Homo sapiens: one gene and its partners. The protein of the gene in region 3 purifies or fractionates together with the protein of the main gene of each other region. This does not show direct contact. Each region holds a gene or a part of one and is shown on either strand. Other genes may lie near its edges.

Region 1 (3,500 bases), on a different chromosome or scaffold from region 3:
GAAGAGTAACAAGTTCTGCTTCATTCTTAGCCCCTATGTCTCACCTCTTCCCCCAGGACATGGTTTTGGCAATTAGAGCTACTAAAAAAGGAAAGGGAATTTTCTGCCACTCACTTCTAAATTAAATGTTTCACTTCTAAGTTAAATTGTTTAAACAATCTCTCCTTGTGAAATTTTTTAAACCAGTTTTCTAAAAGCCTATTCATATAAGAAACTTATCTTTCTTAAAATTACCTTAAATGTGCAATATTTAGAACAACGGTAGATGGTTAAGCCTGAGAGTTTTTCTGCTAATCTTAGCCTTAGCAAGTGTTTAGGGCACAGAGAAGGAGCTCTAAGTCTGATAGAGATGGAAAGGCTGAGACCCAAGTTCCTAGCCCAGTGTGAACATGGTATATCTACACTTCCGGGACCCACCCCAAACCCCAAACAAAGAAAACCTGTTGGGGGGAGCTAGAGAGGCGGAAGAAGTTCTGAGATGGTGATTGAGTAGAGCTTTAAAATGTTCACCCGTTGGTTGGGGACTGGGTGGGGGAAGCATTGGGGGGTGGTGGGGGATAAAAGACTACAAATTGAGTTCAATGTATACTGCTCCGGTGATGGGTGCACCAAAATCTCACGATCGCCACTAAAGAACTTACTCTGTAACCAAATATCACCTGTTCCCCAAAAACCTATGGAAATAAACTGTTTTTTAAATGAGATAGTTTTAATCAGTAGCACAGAAGATTCACATCCTCTGTACAACAAAATTAGTTTCAGGAAAAAATCAGGTAAAACAACAATAGTAACAGTTTCTTTTTCCGAAAAGAAATGCAGACAGTGAAAATATTAAACTTTGTTCTAGTAAAAATTATTACATTACAAAAAAGGAAAATATGGTTTAATGCTTTTTAATTACAATGATGTATTTTTGTTTTTGTTTCGTATAAAAGGAAAAAACTTGTAACCTTGTACGTACATATTGGTTGGTCATAGTAATGAATAATAGCATTACAGTTTGATGATAATTATAAAAGGCTAACGTTAAAAAACATTCCAATTGTAAAGATTTTATTCAAATTCAGTACAATATTTCATTGATAAGTGAAAATTTGCACTTGCCAATCAAATACATTCACTTTGTAGTTTGAAAAAAAAAAAAAAAGCTTCATTCATTGGGAAGAAATGGTTATTCTTCCTTAGCTGAATCACCCAAATTAAAGACAAAGCAGGGAAATTGGAATTATGCACTGAGACATAGTCTTACGCTAAAGGGAATGTCCTAATCTAATAATATCTAATAATTTCAGATATTATTCCTTTGCTGTATATAAAAGCTGCACTTTTGACCAAAGAGTATTGTTCAGAAACCAATGCATGTAATACTTACACTTTTGCTAGCTCCATTGATATTTGTTCCAAAGAGCATCCCTTTGTCTCAGGTATAAACATAACAACAAAAAGCAGGGATGCTAGACTCATGATTGTATATATAAAGCACACCCATGGCAGGCCAATAAGATCTATAAAGGACAAAAGAAATTGATTAGAAATGTGTTTTGTGTAGCTTTGATCCCATTTGTGAACAGCCACTTAGGGCATACATAGCACCATATGTATTTTCAAACATGCCAGCAGTATCCAGGAAAATAGAAATCACAAATTTAAAATGTAGCCAGCTCTGAAGGTGTTACTTTTACAGACTACCTTAGTTTTCTCTGTTGAAGAAAATAGCAGTCTTGTAACTATCACAATTTACACCCAATGTCATCTTCTTGGTGGGCATGTCTTTCTGTTTCAAAATGGCAATGTGTCTTTATTAATATAAAAAAGCACATGCAAAAAAGGAACCTCAAATAACATGGAAACATATGATGTAGAAGGTAAAATCTCTCTTCTCCCTCTCCACAGTTCCCCTCTTGGGAATCGCCATGGTAGCAGTTTAGTTTCTGTTCGGTGGACAATTTTTTCCCCCTCTTGCTATCATTCCCAATGGTGGACATTTTTAATGACATTTGTACAGATGGATTTTTCTTGGAATGAGCTCACCCTTCTTTGCTCTGATGTGAATAAATCATTTCATGCTGGCAATATTTCATCATTTTTAATAGCTTGCAGTGTATTTGTAATGTTTCTTCCTGGGTTCAGAGAAAAAAGTGATCATGGATCCAGTAAAAGCCATCAACTTGCCAAGATGCATCACAAGAAGCAGGATCCTCAAGATTCTGATGACTCTCATCTGCAAACCTAGTTTTTCCTCTGACCGCTTCCAGCCAAAGATACAGTCCCTTTGTAGTCATGGACCAAGTCAAGGCACATTCAGTGGTCAGCAGTGGCCCCCACAGTGCACTTGAGGCTGCCATTTGCATTGTGGCGGCCCCTGACTCAGCAGCAGAATGTCTAGTGTGGCAAGGAGTAGTCAACTACGAACAACAAGATTTTACAAATAGCCTTTAACAGCTGCAGCCACAAACCACAGTTGGTCAGGCAGGAAAACTGACTGAGCACTTGTGTACTGAGGCAGTGTTTGTAAATGCAGCATGAAAGAATCGAAGCATAGTAACTACTTGTCGGTGAGTTGTGCTGAGGTTGGGAGAAGCAGGAAGGAGGAACCGCACTGCAGTTCTTTTGGCAATTTTAATTAAACTCCTGTCTCTCTCTGCTTTTCTAGCTGGCACAGGGTATGGCCCAACTGATTGCTTAATAAAGTCCTTGTAGAATTGGGTGTCCTTCCTTCTCTGGAGCTTAAAACCAGAATATAGAAATTGTCAAAACCCTAAAGGCTGTCTCATCAAATTGTCCCCAGTTTTGTTTGAGCACTTTGAGTAACAGGGAGCTCACCATTTCACGAAGCCTCTTACTGCCCTGTGAAATAGTTGCGTCTGCTAAAAAGTTATTCCTTGCTTAGATCCTAAATCTGCCTTTCAGAGGCTGTGCTTTGTCCTGTGGAAGGACACACAGTGAATCAGCTCTCCCCACCCCTTCTCCGTGACAGCCATTCAAATATTTGAATGCACCTCAGCCCTCCTCTGAGAATCCCCTTGTCCAAGTCAAACATCCTGAGCTCTTCAACCATTCTTCCCACAGCATAGGTTACTGCCCTCGCCATTCAGGTTGCCCTCCTTCAGCGAACACACTGCAATTTTTAAATGGCCCTCTCGAGATGTTTTACTCAGAGCTGAATGCAATGCTACAATTGTGTCATGATCACTGCAGAGTACATTTGTCTATCTGGAACAGTCTGCTTTTATTGATACAGCTGAAATTGCATAAAAAATGTTGGTGTTTAAGGGCTTACTGCCAAGTAGAACCTCACGTCTTTTAGATCCCTGTGTCCTACACTTGGAAAATTTATTTTTGAAAATAAGTAGGAAATGTCAAGCATTCCAATTAAATGTCATCTAAAGGTTTTAGAGCATTCTAGGCTTTTTGTTTTTAAGTGGATCTGTTTTCCTACATTTGTTCTAAAAGCCCATACGGAACTTCTAAAGCTTCACTAGCTCCTCCAGTGTATTAGC
Region 2 (3,500 bases), on a different chromosome or scaffold from region 3:
TGAACTCACATTTATTTAATACTTATTGGGTATCAGACATGAAAATAGGTACTTTTACACACATTTTCTTTTTTTCATTTCTATTTCAATATTTTTTGAACTACAAGTGTTTTTTTCTGTTGCATGGGTAAATTATATAGCAGTAAATTCTGAGATTTTTAGTGCACCCACCACCTCAGTAGTGCACGTTGTACCTAATGTGTAATATTTTTATGCCTAGCCTGTCTCACCCACCCTCTTCTGAGTCTCTAGATTCCATTATATCACTCTGTATACCTTTGCATAATCATAGCTTATCTGTCACTTATAAGTGAGAACATCTATTTTTTTTATTTTTCACTCCTGTGTTACTTTACTTAGAATAGTGGACTCCACCTCCATCCAAGTTACTGCAAAAATACATTATTGCGATCCTTTTTATGGCTGAGGAGTATTACATAGTGTATATACACCACATTTACTTTATCCACTCGTTAGTCAATTGGCACATAGATTCATTCCACATCTTTGCAATTGTGATTAGTAGGATTGCTGTATCAAATGGTAGATTTACTTGTAGCTCTTTAAGGAATCTCCATACTGTTTTCTATAGAAGTTGTACTAATTTACATTTCTACCAGCAGTGTAGAAGCTTTCTCTTTTATCCACATATCTACCAGCATCTATTTTTTTTTCACTTTTTAATAATAGCCATTCTTGCAGTAACGTGCTATTTTATTCTGGTTTTAATTTGCATTTCTCTGACGATTAGTGATGTGGAGCATTTTTTCGTGTTTGTTGGCCATTTGTATATCTTCTTTTGAGGAATCTCTATTTATGTCCTTTGCCCACTCTATAATGGGATTATTTCTCTTTCTATTGCTGACTTGTTTGAGTTCCTTGTAGATTCTAGTTTCTAGTCCTTTGTCAGATGCATAGTCTGCAAATATTTTCTCTCATTCTGTGGGTTGTCTGTTTACTCGGATTATTATTTTCAGACACATTTTTCTTTAATGCTCAAAACAAATTATGTGGCAGGAACCATTCTAATTTTACAAAAGAGGAAACTGAAGCCTGGTGATATGAAGTGAATTGTTTCAGGCCAGAGAACCGACAATTGAGACATGATATGATACCAGGTCTTCCAAAGAACATGATTATTTCCACCCATAAAATGCTGCCACAGCTGCAAAAATGATATCTAATTAGGCCGCCTTCCTAAATGATTGAAAGTCCAATACATATTCCTGCATGAAAGTTCAAATTCAAACTTTAAGTTGTTGTTTTGTTAATGGTCTAATTGCTTTAATTCATTTTAAGGATAAAAATAATTTTCACTTCCTCTAACAGAAGAAAATGTCTGTACTTGCAGAATGTGTCCAAATTTGTGTGTATCTCATGTCAACCAGGCTTATTTGGAGTTGATGTAGATTTATTCAGGAAACAGCAGAGTTTCCAATTCTAGCTGCTACTCTTTGGTTCTGGTTGTAAGCGGCTGAATGAAGAACACCGGGGTCATGGAGATCAGATTGGCTTGGATAATTCATGTGAAATTTAGTGGTTAAAAAATAAAAGAAAAAGGTAAGATGAGGCAAAGCAAGTTAAGTTCCCAGATGACATGTAAAAGTTATCCTCTAGAGAGTGGGAGGGGCCCCCATCAGCAACTTGTTTTCTCTGTTTAATTTTTTCTTCCCCTCCCAGGATGACAAGCCCACAGACAGGCTTCAGCATCAAATAAAATGGAGAAGTAAATTTGATAAACATGTTTACTTAGTGGTGCCAGTGACTTACTGATGAGTGGTGAAAAGACAGGGAAGATTGAGAGTGAAGATTTATGGAGTTGGTACCAGCTGCATAAATGGTGGCAGTGTCAATGGTGATGATATTAGTTAGGAGCAGGGTTCAGAGGGGGAATTCTCATGAAATCATACCAAATGAGAGCTAGAAGGGAGTTAAAGGTCATCTAGTTCAAATCATATTATTTTAATAATGAGGAAATGAAACTCACAGAAGGGAAAGAGCGTATCAGAGCAGCACAAAGAGTATATAAAATTACTGAAATCCAAGTATCTTAGCTACAAATCCAGTACACCTTTCTATATATTATACTGCTTTTGAGTCTTCTGTATCCTACAGCAAGTCTTGTCCTATTCAGATCACTCCTGTTGTAAAGAAATTGTTCCATTACTTCTATCTACAGATTTGTTATAATTTGAATTCATAAGCACAATTCCATAAAGAACGTTGGTTTTGATATAATCCTATCCTGACACCTGGTGGGCAGCAATTTGCCATATATGCATAGTGCATATGCATAAAACTGCTAGAACTAGAACCGAAAACAATAGCTTTTTTATCTCTGAGGAACAGTCTTATCCACAGAAATACCACTTTAAAATATGTTTCTGTCCATATAATAAGTTATTCAGCTAAAAATAACTTTAGCTTTCTGGGCTTATGAAAAGCCTTATTAAAGCTGAAATCATAACTCTGACTGCAGAAAGTCACTTACTCCTGCTGAGACTCCATTTTCTAATCTGTAAAGGAGTATAATAGTAATTAACTCAGAATTCTTACAAAGATTAGAGGTAACGTGAATAGCACTTAGCTAGTTACTGACAGGATGTGGAAATTTCCTCACTGGGACTTAGGAAACTAATATAAATTCTGATGCCATAATAATATAAGCTCAGTTTGGCTGTAACTTTGTGAAAACCACAACGTTGAGCTAGTTGGTTGGGAAGAGCAGCTGCTTTTGGGTAGATGGTATTAGTATCTAGTAAGATTTTGGGCTCAGCTCCAATGAATCATATTTAAAGACCTTCCATACCTTTGTATTCTGAGAAAACATTTAGTTGTTTCCACAAAATAAAGTTTTCAGTGATCAAATTCCTAATTAAGTTTAAGGGATTCCTGTTGGATTTCAAAACGAAAGCTGGATTGCCTTCTTTAAAGCTCTTAGGTGTTCAGATTTCTTAGACTAAAACCTTATTATTCTTGCTTTGACCACATTTTCTTCAGTAGCAGAAAGGAGAAAGATTATGGCTGTTGTTTAGGAGAGTGTTTCATGGGAGAGACTTTACAAGTAAAAATGCCTAATGCTCTGCTAATATGTGCCTATGCTCTGTAGTCTTACCTTCTCACAGTGCAGCCTATAAATTCAGTAGGTGTTCGAAGAAGAGGGGAGTGAGAGTAGGGTTGCCCGATGTAAGGAAAAAATGGGAGTTGAGATGCGATATTGAGACAGAAGTAAAATATTGACCTCTGAGTTGGGCTCCAGGTAAAAAAGGAATATGATGGAGTTTTAGTCATAACTTTGTGCGTGCCATTTTTATTATCAGGAACATCTTTAGAGCCATACTTTGATTTTTGTTTTTTTGCCCATATTTTCTTCAACTTTTATTTTAAGTTTAGGGGTACATGTGCAGGATGTGCAGGGTTGTGACATAGGTAAATGTGTGTCATGGTCGTTTGCTGCAAAGATCATCCCATCACCTAGTTATTAAGCCCAGCATCCATTA
Region 3 (5,535 bases):
TCCTTATTTTCTAAACTTTCTATGATGAAGAGACTATTAATAAATATGTTTCCAGACTGCAACCAAAAAGTTAACAATGACACATAGTACTACTGATTAGTAACTAACTCCACCTACTGCTGTGTCTACTGTAGAAACAATAAAAGCAGCAACAGACCTGACTGTTCTCCAAGGTCTGCTTTTGGGTAAGCCAGTCCTGGGGGTCGGTGCTGGGTATGTAAGGAGCTTGATAACCACTGGCAGGTTTGCTTCCAAGGAGCCATTCGCTGAAAGGGACAGCTACAATACCGGATGCTGACTTCTGTTAATCACAAAACAAGGAATGTCAAATGCAGTAGAAAGTTCACCAGAAAAAGAGAAGAGCCACTCTCTAATCTTGGCTTGCCACTGACCCTGGGCAAATCATGTGCCTTCCAAGAGCCTCAATTTTCACAATTATAAAACAAGAGACACACAGCTGATCTCTAGGGCTCTTCTCAACTAAAACATATAGAAACCTTTATTCACATTGCCATTCCTTTAGAAATAAATCATCTCTACAAATTATAAAGAGGATCGCTCACAGAGAACCAGTATCAGTAAGACAGCTAATGATAATTTCCTGTGAACTGATTGATAATTACTTTTTCTGTTAATCAGCCCCGACAAGACATCTAAATTTCTATTTGGCATTAGGTCTCAAGGGAAGCATTCAATTTCATAAACTAACTCATTGCCACTGGTGCCTTTTTACAAATAGTAGCATTTTTTTAATGCTATATAAAACCCAAAGGAAGTATAAGCCAAGTAATGACTCAATTACCAAAAACAAAATGATATTTTACCTGCTCTGGCATGGAGATACAGCCTCTCTTCTCCAGGAAGGGCCCAATATTTGCTGAACTAGCATGAGCCATCAAGTGCTCAGGAATTTGCTACAAAATAGAGATAATTTAATCATGTTATTTATGCTATGCTGCCAAAAAAGTGAAATTATAATTCCAAATTTCAAAAATGTTAAAGCATTACCATTTCATTAGAAATACTGTTCACACTAAATTCCATGACTTACAAAGTAGTTATCAAATTTGAGAATACTCTACCACATAACTATTATATAAAAAATCTTTACCAGAATTGGTTGTATTACCACTTTTAACAAGACCCAAACGTTTCGTTCTTTATTAAAAACTATTCAAGCCATAAATTTTACAAAAAATATTTCAAAAGTATTTAGAGAGATACATGAGGCATTCCAAAGAGTATCACTGAGTCTGTACTACATTCCAAGAACTACCAACCTAGGCAACTTAATCAGAATATGAATTTTTTTTTTTTTAGGCGGAGTCTCACTGTTTGTCGCCCAGGTTGGAATGCAGTGGCACGATCTCAGGTCACTGCAACCTCCGCCTCCCAGCTTGAAGCGATCCTCCTGCCTCAGCCTTCCAAGTAGCTGGGATTATAGGCGCCCAGCTAATTTTTTTGTATTTTTAATAGAGATGGGTTTTCACCATGTTGGCCAGGCTGGTCTTGAACTTCTGACCTCAAGTGATCCGCCCTCCTCGGCCTCCCAAAGTGCTAGGATTACAGGCGTGAGCCACCACGCCCAGCTGAGAACATGAAATTTTTGAAGCTAATCAAATTCTCAAGAAAGTCACTATTCATAGCAATTTTTTTTAAGACCAGCTGTGAGGCCACAGATATGAGAAGTGCCCAGTGAAGCATATGAGATTACTCACAATGGTTTTGAGAGACCCAAATGTGGTGATGGTCTGGCGCAGAGTAATTGTGTCAGCTTCAAAGAGCAGGACAGTTGAATCTTCAGGCTTAAGGGTCAAACTGCCCAGTCTGGGGAAAAAAAAACAAAATTGGCTATTTTTAAGGAATATCTGTTTCATCAACTTCATCTAAAACAAAAGCCAAATTGTGAGTAATTTTAAATGATTACACTTCTCTAAGAAACTCAACCAAAGATAGATGGCTTATTCATGTATCAGCAAGTATAATATTAAATACATGAAGCAGAATGATCTTATCCTAGCAACACAGAAGTTAAATATAACACAAGCAATGAGTTACAAAATCGACTTTCTTTTAGTATACCAAAGTTCAAGAGTCAAAAGTTAAAATACGCAAAAAGGGTCATTACCTCTCCAGGCACACAGAGACTTGATTGGCTAGATCTTTGTTTTGGGTACACTCCAGTTGATGAGTAAGACAATTGAACTGGCCCAATAACTAAAAGAAAAATGAAACCAACTAGCCACAATGACACCAAAAGCACCAGATATACTCAAGTTACCAAACAGCACTTGAGATTAAACTTCTATCTGATCTATATTAACACTGCATTACAAGGAAGATACTCTCTGGCAACCAGAAGCCATGCTCAAACCAATTCTAGCCATGCAGTCACCTTACCGAGTAGAGCTGCTGAGCCTGCTGTTGAAGTGTCTCCTCTTTAAGCTGATAAATAAGGTCCACCTGTTCATACAGCCATACCTCACGGCTTCTAAGACATTCCAGGTGACGGCTTATGCAACTGTGAATCTGAGCTTTGACCTAGGAAACACATACATGTTAGCTTCCTAGTGTTAATCCCAAAGAATGATGTTTCCCAAAGAATAGTGAGTTTCTAAAACTTTTTTTGGGGGGGTGGGGTTGGGGGGACCACAAATCCTTTTAATTATCCAATGACATCTATGAAGTATCTCCCCAGAAAAAATGTATATTTTCAAGATTTTACCTATAATTTCAGGGTTTAGTGTTCCAAAGCCCACCCAAGGACCCACTAAAGCCCTATGGACCCCAATTTAAGAATCCTAGCCATAAAGGCATACCTAAACTCTAAAATCCTTCTTCAATACCCAGCCTTCTAAGAGGATTAGGTTTAATTTGGGTGTCCTAATCAAGAGAAAATACAAGAATGTACCAGGAAATACTGACCCCCTCAGTTTTCCACATAATTTAAAAACCTACGGTTTTACAAGTTTATCAGCAGAATAAAGACAGAGTATTAACTTAATAGCTAGCCCCTTATCTCTTTTCTCACCCCACAGAATGAGCGGTCCATTTACAGGAGGCCAATTTAGTAAAGAGATGTGCCACCACATGTCAACAGCTAAAAGACCATTAGGGTAGACAATTTAAGTAAAATTATAAACTAATATTTCTGGAAGCATAAACAGTGATTCAAACAGGGCTAAATATAAAAATCCCAAGGGAAAAAGTCAAAACAGGCCATAAATTATCCGTGACAATATACATAAGAAACTGTATTTTAAAACACATTTTTTTCTGTTTAATAAAGTTGTGTTTCAAAGTCATGTAATACTTGGTCTAACACACACAACAACAAAATACTACTGGAACCAACAACAGATTTCACTCTGGCTTGCCCTAACAGATAGTCATTTACAGAACAATGCCATTAACCAGCTAAAAGATGATGGGGAGGATGCTCAAGTGCATCCTTCATGCAATCAAGAGGATGCAGCTGAGAGGATACTGCTCACTCATTTCATATTTTTACTGGTCACAGTGCCTGAGGAATCACACAGAGGAGTAATCAAAAATCTAAGTAGTTAGTAATCTAAGTAAGCTGAATAGAATTTTCTAGAATGGCACAGGGTTTTCCAGACTCTTCTAGCATCTGCCTTATTTCCCCTTGGGATGAAAGGCACCAGTATATCAGGCAACTGACGGGGACCAAGTAGACCACGCAAGGCATGGGGTGAAATTTTTTGCTGGCACGGAGAGACCAAGTCCTTGGCCATGCTCAAATCAGCCCTGTGTCAAGAGTCCAGACAACAGAAGAGAAAAGCACATGTCACACCTCTCGCAAGTTATCTTTAATTTGCTGTTCAGCCCGGAGAACTCCACCAATAGCAAGCTCCAAGTCCCTCCGTGCATCACTACACCTCAAAAGGGGTTCTCTATTACTGGAGCTGCCACTCTGGTCTTGGAAGGTATTCATTCTCCTCACTGCTCCTTTAAAAGAAAAAAATATATATAAATAGCACCATAATTACAACCAAAAACCACCTTTGAATCATCCCTCAAATGATCATTCCAGCCAACTCCCATTACTAACTACTTAGATTACTTTCCAACACCAAACCTAGCACATAAGATACTCTTAATAAATATTGTCTCCTCCCTTCCCTCTACCACTGTTCCTGCCATAAAACTCTATAATCTACTTTAGTGACACTTTACATGTGAATAGCTATTTCTGGAAAAATACACTAATTGTCCTGAATCAAAGAGCATACAGTGTCCTGAAAAGTTAAAAGAACATTAGAATATCATTTTCTATTTATAACACACATATAGTCATATGAGGCATGTGTTCCTCTTTGTAGATTTAGAGATGAAGACTAAAAGGTACAGAAGGATCTTTGATTACTTTCAAAATAAGCTGCAAACAATCAAGTTTAGAACACTTTGTTTAGAAGACGGAATTTTTAATTTCCCCCTTTTAGGTAGAACTTTTTTTTTTATTTAGGAAGAACTTAAGAATGACTTCACAGCTAGGAAGTTCTCAAAAATATAACATAGGGCCGGGCACGGTGGCTCACACCTGTAATTCTAGTACTTTGGGAGGCCAAGGTGGGTGGATCACTTGATTCCAGGAGTTCGGGACCAGCCTGGGCAAAATAGCCAGACCCCGTCTCTACAAAATATAAAAATTAGCCACATGTGGTGGTGTGCATCTGTAGTCCCAGCTACTTGGCAGGCTGAGATGGGAAGATCACCTGAGCCCAGGAGTTCGCAGCTGCAGTGAGCCGTGATTGCACCTGCACTCCACCCTGGGTAAGAGGGTGAAACTCTGTCTCAAAACAACAACAAAAAAGAATATAACAGATATAGAGATACATGTTTTATATAGAGAGAATATATGTAATATATAATATATAAAAGAATGTGCATTATATGTAACAGATTATATGTGACAAAATGATTTCATGATTCTCATATAAAGGAGACACAGAAATTGGTGTGGGTAAATACAGAGTTCTCTAAGAAGCTTGGGTTTAGGAGCGAAAGGAAACACAAATGGGAAGAACAGCATATAATGATAAAATGAGACTGTAACACATGAGTGTCAGTAAAGCCATAACGTAAAACTTGACAAAAGCTACTGCAAGAACAATGACATGATTTTTAAACACTGAGAAAATGACAGCAGTGATTACTAGAGCTCAGAATAGGTTCACTAAGCCTTGTGATACCAGTTATTTCCTTTTGGATTGTTTTACTAAACTGGCAAGTCAAGGTAATGCTGTAGACACAAAGGGATGACAGAAGACTTGTGGCAAGACTATATGTTATCACTGTGGAAAAAGTGAATATTAGCTAAAGAGAAGCACAATTAAACTGAATAATAAGATTATTTTTTACAAAATACTCAAAGGATGACAGACTAAGGCCAGTTTGTAAAGTTTTGAGAGGCACATCCCTGTTTTTCCTAATTACCTGTATGAAAACACACAAGACAAACATTAAAGCTGGAGGTAACATGGGGCTGTGACAGAAACAGATCCCAAAACAATC

The links.
Region 1: the proteins of NCOA4 (region 3) and SLC2A12 purify together in Homo sapiens (co-immunoprecipitation; one large-scale study listed by IntAct). This does not show direct contact.
Region 2: the proteins of NCOA4 (region 3) and P2RY10 purify together in Homo sapiens (co-immunoprecipitation; one large-scale study listed by IntAct). This does not show direct contact.

What each region holds. Positions count from the first base shown.
Region 1 is NC_000006.12:134,000,625-134,004,124, forward strand, and holds part of SLC2A12 (solute carrier family 2, facilitated glucose transporter member 12), read right to left. Parts: intron 1,506-3,500; coding exon 1,373-1,505; intron 1-1,372. UniProt on the Homo sapiens protein: Insulin-independent facilitative glucose transporter.
Region 2 is NC_000023.11:78,948,391-78,951,890, forward strand, and holds part of P2RY10 (putative P2Y purinoceptor 10), read left to right. Parts: intron 1-3,500. UniProt on the Homo sapiens protein: Putative receptor for purines coupled to G-proteins.
Region 3 is NC_000010.11:46,012,726-46,018,260, forward strand, and holds part of NCOA4 (nuclear receptor coactivator 4), read right to left. Parts: intron 3,970-5,535; coding exon of another isoform or gene 3,956-3,969; coding exon 3,815-3,955; intron 2,542-3,814; coding exon 2,401-2,541; intron 2,218-2,400; coding exon 2,129-2,217; intron 1,828-2,128; coding exon 1,719-1,827; intron 915-1,718; coding exon 825-914; intron 302-824; coding exon 158-301; intron 1-157. UniProt on the Homo sapiens protein: Cargo receptor for the autophagic turnover of the iron-binding ferritin complex, playing a central role in iron homeostasis. Acts as an adapter for delivery of ferritin to lysosomes and autophagic degradation of ferritin, a process named ferritinophagy.